Regions from separate parts of the Homo sapiens genome. Here region 1 is linked to region 2. The links come from fine-mapping of genetic effects on gene expression. A gene starts in region 2. The other region holds a variant in brackets. All regions are shown on one strand. Distances are from middle to middle.

Region 1 (4,380 bases), 120 kb before region 2:
CCTTACAGAATGAAGCCACCCTGGGTCAGTGTGGGGTGGAAGCCCTGACAACCCTGGAAGTGGTTGGCCGCAGGCTAGGAGGTGAGTGGGGCTACAGGGGCCCCAAACTGGTGTCCAGGGGCAATTCACGACACTTAGACTTACTTGGTTTGCCCTGCACGGTGTGTTACTTTTTTTTTTCTTTTTTCTTTAGTTCACAATGTCTAAAAGTCAGCTGATTTTGTGTTAAAATTCAGTGTCTGGCTTTGCTTCAAAAATTGGGAAGATCGGCCGGACGCGGTGGCTCACGCCTGTAATCTCAGCACTTTGGGAGGCCGAGGTGGGTGGATCACGAGGTCAGGAGATCGAGACCATCCTGGCTAACATGGTGAAACCCTGTCTCTACTAAAAATACAAAAAAAAAAAAAAAAAAAAAAAAATTAGCCGGGCGTGGTGGCGGGCGCCTATAGTCCCAGCTACTCCGGAGGCTGAGGCAGGAGAATGGCGTGAACCCAGGAGGCAGAGCTTGCAATGAGCCGAGATCGCACCACTGAACTGCAGCCTGGGCAACAGAGAGAGACTCCGTCTCAAAAAAAAAAAAAAAAAAATGGGGGAGATCAGGTGACATTGGGCCTGTGTTCCCACATACCAGCAATCTGCCCTAGCTGAGTGGTGGCTGTCCCTTTGGAAGGCTCTACAGTTTGCCACCATCTCCACACCTCCCTCTTCCAGGGCCAGCCACCATTTATCATCAGGCTTGCGCTGTTGTTTCTCTTAAAGAAAAGTGAATTCTCTTTTTGTTCCTATGTCTCTATCAAAAGTGGGAAAATGAAAGATGGATTGATAGCGCCGCGTGTTTCAAGAGAAGTGGGAGCAAGCATATTTCTTTGTGGAAGTATAGTCCTATGTGTTTAATATGTAACCAAACTTTGTCTGTGTCAAAAGAATACAACTGAAGATGTCATTATGAAACAAACCATGGTGAGAATTTTGACTAGTTTACAGAAAAGATGCATGATGAAAAACTCAATGAACTTAGAAAAGGACTAAACTTTCTACAGCATTAATCATCGAATACAAATAAAATAAGTGATGCTGCTGTGAAATGCAGTTACATAATAAGTGAAAAAATTGTCCGTGCTTCAAAATCTTTTACAGATGGTGAGTTTATAAAAGACTGTCTATTGAGTGCAGCGGAAATCATGTGTCCTGAACAGAAAGAAGCATTTGCAGACATAAGCCTAACCAGAAAAACTGTTGCTCAGAGAGTAAAAGATATGGCTGAGAATTTACAGGATAAGTTGTGAGAAAAAGTGAGATCATTTGTGACATTTTCTATTGCAGTTGATGAGTGCACATATGTAAATAATACAAGTCAGTTAATTATGTTTATCCATGGTGTTGCTGAGAATTTTGATATCATTGAAGAACTTTTAGACATGGTACCTATGGCAGATCCAACCACTGAAAGTGACTTATTTTTGTATGTTGAAAAAAGTCGGCTGGGCACAGTGGCTCATGCCGGTAATCCCAGCATTTTGGGAGGCCGAGGCAGGCGGATCTCAAGGTCAGGAGATCAAGACCATCCTGGCTAACACGGTGAAACCCCATCTCTACTAAAAAAAAATACAAAAAAATTAGCCAGGCGTGGTGGCGGGCGCCTATAGTCTCAGCTACTCAGGAGGCTGAGGCAGGAGAATGGCATGAACCCAGGAGGCGGAGCTTGCAGTGAGCCGAGATCACGCCACTGCACTGGGTGACAGAGCAAGACTCTGTCTTGAAAAAAGAAAAAGAAAAAAAAGTTTCAAAAAGTTTAATGTTGACTGGTCAAAATTAGTAAGTGTGACCACAGATGGTGCCCCTGCAATGGTCTGTGATAACACTGGACTTGTTGCAAAACTTAAATCCAAGTTCAAAATGTTTCAAAAAGATACAGAACTGAAATCCATTCACTGCATTAGTCATCAGAAATTGTTTTGTACTAAAAAGTTAAAACTAGCTGGGTGTGGTGGCTCACGCCTGTAATCCCACCACTTTGGGAGGCCGAAGCGGGCAGATCACCTGAGGTCAGGAGTTTAAGACCAGCCTGTACAACATGGCGAAACCCCATCTCTACTAAAAAATACAAAAATTAGCCAGGCGTTGTGGCGGGCGCCTGTAATCCCAGCTACTCGGGAGGCTGAGGCAGGGAGAATTGCTTGAACCTGGGAGGAGGAGGTTGCAATGAGCCGATATCACGCCACTGCACTCCAGCCTGGTCGAAAGAGCGAGACTCCCTCTCAAAAAAGAAAGAAAGAAAGAAACCCCGTGTCTATTAAAAATACAAAAATTAGCCAGGCGTGGTGGCATGCATCTGTAGTCCCAGCTACTCAAGAGGTTGAGGCAGGAGAATCACTTGAACCCAGGAGGCAGAGGTTGCAATGAGCCAAGATAGCGCCACTGCACTCCAGCCTGGGTGAAAGAGCGAGACTGTCT[C/CA]AAAAAAAAAAAAAAAAAAAAAAATTCCTCCCTATTCAAATTATTGTGTGTTTTTTTTTCTTTGCTGATTGGACCCAGACTGATAATGGTCCTGTTTCTTATCTGTCCTGGGATTCCCCTGAAAGAAGATTTGGATTTGGGGCAACAAAGAGGACAGATGTTCACATACACAGGACTTTGCCTTTCCCTGGGTCAGCAAGGCACCTAATGGAGAACAAGTGTCCCTGGCCCAATAACAGGCATACAGGCTGTTACCATGTTAATTCACATTGGTTTTTTTGGGGGGGGGGGGTTTTTGTTTTTTTTTTTTTGAGACAGTCTTGCTCTGTCTCCAGGCTGGAATACAGTGGCGTGATCTCGACTTACTGCAACCTCCGACTCCCTGGTTCAAGCGATTCTCCTGCCTCAGCCTCCTGAGTAGCTGGGACTAGAGGCACGCACCACCATGCCCAGCTAATTTTTGTATTTTTAGTAGAGATGGGGTTCCACCATGCTGGCCAGGATGGTCTCGATCTCCTGACCTTGTGACCCGCCCACCTTGGGCTCCCAAAGTGCTTGGAATTACAGGCGTGAGCCACTGCGCCCGGCTATGTTGATCTTAACTAATCACCATTGTGCCTCAATTTTTAGTTAATGATAGCAGAAAAAAGATGGGCCAATTCAACAAATATTTGTGGAGAATGTACCATGGGCAAGGCTCCTCTCTGAGGGCAAGTCATTTCTGTCACTTGTTTATTCCGTGACCTTGACCTGGTCATCTTACCCTCTGAGTTTTGCCTTCATCCATAAAATGAGGCTAGTATCACATGTATTATCTATTGCTGCATAAAAGTTACCTCAAAGTGTAGTAGCTTAAACCAACAAATATTTATTATATCTCTGGTTTCTGTAAGTCAAGAACCTGGGAGTAGTTTAGCTGGGAGGTTTCAGCTCAGGGTCTTATTTTTGTTTTGTTTTGCTTTCTTTGAGACGGAGTCTCGCTCTTGTTTCTCAGGCTGGAGTGCAATGGTGCAAACTTGGCTCACTGCAACCTCTGCCTCCCAGGTTCAAGTGGTTCTCCCGCCTCAGCCTCCCGAGTAGCTGGGATTACAGGCGTGTGCCACCATGCCAGCTAATTTTTTGTATTTTTAGTAGAGACAGGGTTTCACAATATTGGCCAGGCTGGTCTCGAACTCCTGACCTCAGGTGATCCACCTGCCTCGGCCTCCCAAAGTGCTGGGATTACAGGCATGAGCCACCGTGTCTGGCCCAGGGTCTCTTAAGAGATTGCAATCATTTGAAAACTTTGAGTTAACTTGTACGCAGCAATAGATAACTTACACATGTGGTCGTAGCCTCATCACTGGGGTTAGAGGATCCACATGAGAAAGAGCTCATTCACACAGCTGTTGGCAAAAGGCCTCAGCTCCTGGCAACATGGAAGCTGCCTTTCCCTGGAACAAGTGATCAGAGAAAGAGAGAGAGCACACTGATCGGCACTGTATCTATATAACCTAGTCTTGGAAGCGATACATCAACACTTCTCTCATATTCTATTGGCCACTGTATTAGCCATGTCTTTGATTTTCTTTATTCTGATGCTTTGACATCTGGAGCCTTGCTGACCCCACTGGAGGGACCACCTCTTCCAAGAGTTCTTAGGGATAGAGAACAACTCACCTGAGAGTGTGCTTTTCAAATGCAAACCAACCAGTCCAGAGCGCGCACCCCCCCACCATCTCCTTTATCATGCTTTCCCACTTCAGGCTGCCGGTCACTACCCTAATCACCCCAGGGCGCGGTACCAGACTAAAGGGACAGCCCCTATGCCCCAGAGCCTGAAATTGACCAATCCTGAAACTAGCAGTCCTAAAACTGTTATCCTGTCCTGCCCACCCCTTCCCTCAGAAACCACAAGAAAGGCTCTTGCAGGTCAAAGCGCAGTAG
Region 2 (4,380 bases):
CAATCCAGGACTACAAACACCTGTGCCAAGACCTGAGCTTCTGCCAGGACCTGTCATCCTCCCTCCATTCGGACAGCTCCTACCCACCGGATGCGGGCCTGTCTGACGACGAGGAGCCTCCCGATGCCAGCCTGCCTCCTGACCCGCCACCCCTTACTGTGCCCCAGACGCACAATGCCCGTGACCAGTGGCTGCAGGATGCCTTCCACATCAGCCTCTGAAGGGCTGGGGGGCAGGGGGCATGCACCCATGCAAAAGGCTCAGAAACTCCCCCTCCGGCAAGCCCTCAGACTTCGGAGCCTGCGCCTTCCCCCCTACCGCCTCACCTCACAGGAGGGCCAGGCATGTATTCCTCAGAGGCGAAACTGCCAAACTCTTTCTCCTGTCTTGGGTTGGCTGGCACTGGGGCGGGCATCTAGGGTACAGCCTCTGCTCATGGCACTGGGCCTCCAGTTCTTCCACATGTGTGCACCCCCAGCTTGGCCAACCCTCAGCCTTGCGGTGGGGCCCGAAGCATCTTCCCTTCCGCTTGGCGTCTCTGGGATTGGGATGAGTGCCTGGCTCCCATCTCCTCCTCACCTTTTGTTGCTATCGGCAGCTGCTGGCTCAGGGGCATCCCACCTCCGGGCTCTGGGTTCCTCTGCCCTGGAAGGGCTCCAGGACCCGTCCCAATAACCACCCACGGCCAGGAGGGCCAAGGCCCCGTGCTGGATATTTAAATTTAGGGGCCGGTCTCCAGGGCGCGTAGATAAATAAATACACTCAGCGTCGTTGTGCTCTGCCTGGCTGGCTCTGGGGCGGGAAGACCGCGGTGTTTGTGGCAGGTGCGGCCCCGCGCTCTGCCAGCAGGTGGCGCCCGAGACCCCCTCCCCCCCCGCCCCGCGCCGAGTGAAGGCCCTGCCGTCCCGCCGGGGCGGGGCTGGGGGCGCTGCCTGCTGGCCGAGCCTGGCTCAGCCGCCGGGTGACTGCGGTCGAGTCACTTCCCCTCTCTCGCCCGCGACCTCCGAGTCCCCCGCTCCCTCCTCCCAGTTCGCTTCGGGCTTTCCCTGCCTGCCGGGAAGGAAGGAGAAGGAGCCGCCCACCTTGAGGAGGGAAACTTTCCACCCCGCGCGGGGCGGGGTTGAGGCGGCGCAGGAAATGGGTGGCCGGAGTCGCCGGAGCAAGGGGCCCCGGCGGGGGCGGGGGAGGCGCCTCCGGGAACGGCCTGGGACCTCACGCCCCGCGGGTGGGAGGGAGGGGTGGCAGAGGCCGAGGGGAGTGAAGTCGCGGCACCTCGGGCCTTCCCGGAGGCCAAGCATGAGACTCCGCGGCGGTGAAGTTTGATTGGGGTTCCAGGGACCCGTATTCCCCGCTCAGTCTGTGAAGACCGCCGGCTCTCCCCACAGCACTAGCGGTCTTTACAGTTATCTGTGGAAGGTTTCTTAGGAAACCGGGGACCCACACCGCTGGGACTGAGAACCAAACCCAGTTGTCAAGCCCACCGGAAGAAGCCAGCACGTTCGGAGACAGTGGGTACTCAGCCCCCTACACGCGCACACGACACCTCACAACCTCCTGAAAAGAGGTGAAGCCGCACACCGAGGTGTGCGGACGAACAGCACATCCCCGCGCCCTGCTGCAGCCATTTGCCTCCTGGAGATGCAGCCCAGATGGCAGTCCTGGCACTCAGACATCCCGTTAAACCAAGTAGCAGTCACGCACCGGGCTCCTGTCCATTTACACACCTTGCAGAGCAGCGGGAAGGAACAAACTGACCTATTGCCCCAGGGCAGCTGACACCTGCAGAGGCTCATTACCATGCAGGGCGGGTGGGTAGGCGATAAGGGCTCTAATCTAGGGGTTCACAGCTGCTAACGCTCCAGGCAGGCTTTCCTGGGGAGGGAGAGTAAACATACACAAAAATGACACGTTTTCCCCATCCATTATAGCGCATCCCATTTAATAAGGAGGCATGGCAAAATCAGCCAGGCTTTCTGCTAAATGCCTTCTGAGGTTCATCCTCTCAGGGATTCCCTAAAAGGCGGAACTACAATTATCCCCATTTAATAGACGTTGAAACTGAGGCTCAGAGTGTTAGCGCTTTGCCCAAAGTCACACTTGGTTGGAGGTCAGTTATGATTCTCCAGCTACTTGTCGGGGTTTGGGATTATCTTCCCCCTTGACAGCAGAGTCAGGTTCTGAGGTTGGGCCACCGAGGTTACTGACGCCTTCCTGCTCTGGTTAAGACGTGGGTGGCTGCACCTTGGAGTTGAGAGCTGGTCCTCGTCCACATTCACAGTATGACTCTGAGCAAGTCCCTTCCCCTTTCTGGGTCTCAGTTTTCCCAGCCGTTGAAAGGGGGCCAGTAGTACGTACCTCCCAGGGCTGCGGGCAGGAAGGAAGGCGGCCCGGGCAGCGCTCTCTAGGGTGGCACCAAGTTGCTGGTTGCCCTCTCTCCACGCAGCCTCTGCGCGCACCGAGCGGGCACTGCGGTCGGGCGACACCCCTTCCACGCCCCCCTCCCCCGCCCCCGCTCCCGCTCCCGGGTCGCGGCGCGAGGCCCCGGAAGCCGGGTCGCCCCGCCCCCGCGCTCCTGCCCCGGCCCCCGCCCCGCGCCGGAGCCCCGCCCGCCTTCCGACGGGGGTGCGGCTCCAGGAAACGGCGCGCTCCCAGCTCCGCGCTCGCCACCCGACGCGCCCCAGGCGACCCCGCAGACTCAGCCAGACCACCCTGCGGGCCCCAGCGGCGGCAGCGGAGAGCGCGGTCCCGGGTCGGAGCCTGGGACACCTCCGCACGGACGGGGCGGGCGGCGCGGACAGGCCATGGGGACCCGGGCCGGGCCAGCGGTGGCGGGCCAGCGGGAGCCCCGGGCCTGAGAAGTGGGCGGCGGGGTGGCGGGGGCCATGACCTCGGTGTGGAAGCGCCTGCAGCGCGTGGGCAAGCGGGCGGCCAAGTTCCAGTTCGTGGCCTGTTACCACGAGCTAGTGTTGGAGTGCACCAAGAAATGGTGAGTGGGAGGGAGGCGGGGGGGCTCCCCCGAACTTGCTGGGACCTCATCCGGCCCTTTGAGCCTGAGAGGACTCTGCCCCCCCAGCCCAATGACCAAATGGGCCCCCACCCCAGCTTGGGCCCTGGTTCCGTTCCCAGGCTCGGAGATTCAGAAGTGCCCTTGCAATTTGTGGGACCCCTGGAGTTGGGGGCGTGGGCAGCCTTCCCTGCGCGGGGGTCAGGACTTTCAGGCCTGAGGTTCTGCCTGTGTCCACTCCTTCCTCAGCTGCGGTCAGGGCTGGGGGAGGGAGGCCGCATGTCTTGTGCCAGAAAGGTGGTTCAGGGTGGCATTGGAAAAGGGATCAAGTTTTGAGGTCTGCAGGTGGCTAGGGCTGGGGCAGGAGCCTCCCTGACCTTACTTAGTCCAGCTAAGAACAGAGATGTTGCCCCCTCCTCCCCTGCCATCTTGTTGAGCCAGAAGAACCCCTCCAACTCCCGCCTCTTCAGCCAGAGTGCTGGGAGGCTGGAAACATCTCCACAATGTCCTTAAAAGGGGAAACTGAGTGCTGGGAGGATTGAGGAGGGAGGCGGGGAGCAGCTTAAAGGGGCCTGAGGACCTAGGAGGTTGTGGGTCCGGGAGGAGAGGGTTGCGGAGGGCAAGGTGGCAGGGTGAGGGGTGATTCACCAGAGGGTGCAGGCCCCAGCCTGGACTACCAACAGGTTCAGGGGCATCTCGTTCACATGCCGCCACCCATAGCTGCCCAGGCCCCTGCGTCACACCCTAAATATACGTGCTTGCTGGTGTCAGCTTCCCTTGGCTGGATTAGGGCACAGCTGTGGGGGCCTCACCCGCCAGGCGGGGCTAAATTTAGGCTCCCCAGGGGAAGGGCTGGGGCAGGAAGGGACCATGGGGTCCAGGGGGAGGGGAGTAAGCAGGAGGCTGGGGTCCCTTGGGCAGCTGCCATATCCTTGGCCTTGCCCACACTGGGCCTGCTAGAGGGCCATTCACATCTTTCAGCAGAGCCTGGGAGAGCTTGGGGGCTGGCACTTGAACTCTGGCCTCTGGCTCCTGCTCCAGCATCCTGCGGGAGGCCAGGGAAACACTGGGCACAGCAGGCTGAGGGTGCCGGCAGTGTCAACGCAGCTGAGTCACAGGCGGCTGTGGGTAGGGCCTCCTGGGCTGCTTAGCCTGGAGCCCAGGCCGGGAAGCTGCCCCTGCCCAGGTTGCAGCTTCCCAGGAGGGCGTGCCCAGCCTGAGTCAGGCTGCCCAGCCAAGCCCTGCCCTCCCTAGGCACCCCCTGTCCGCTTCCCCTTTCTGGGAAGGCCCCTTAGTTACCCTTGCTCTGCCATCGCTGGCAATTTGGGCTTGGGGAAGGGAACTTGGCTCTGGGTTGGAGGGCTCTAGGCTCAACC

What was found. PIP is the estimated chance that this variant, and not a neighbour inherited with it, causes the effect. A credible set is the group of variants that fine-mapping cannot tell apart.
Region 1: its variant is the best candidate, but not a certain one, in a credible set for the expression of EHBP1L1 in whole blood (INTERVAL, PIP 0.79).

The regions. Positions count from the first base shown.
Region 1 is chr11:65,455,501-65,459,880 of GRCh38, forward strand. It overlaps the pseudogene FAUP4. Among named protein-coding and RNA genes, the nearest start is that of MIR612, 13 kb to the left of the region's middle. RefSeq lists an enhancer at 3,798-4,380 and a silencer at 4,297-4,356. The variant C/CA (reference allele first, on the strand shown) is at 2,455.
Region 2 is chr11:65,573,421-65,577,800 of GRCh38, forward strand. EHBP1L1 (EH domain binding protein 1 like 1) reads left to right here and starts at 2,633. Exons shown (of 19, transcript NM_001099409.3): 1 at 2,633-2,986. The coding sequence starts at 2,883. FAM89B (family with sequence similarity 89 member B) reads left to right here. Exons shown (of 2, transcript NM_001098785.2): 2 at 1-770. The coding sequence ends at 221. RefSeq lists silencers at 718-1,237, 2,258-2,677, 2,688-2,747, 2,808-2,907, 3,958-4,252 and an enhancer at 1,608-1,747.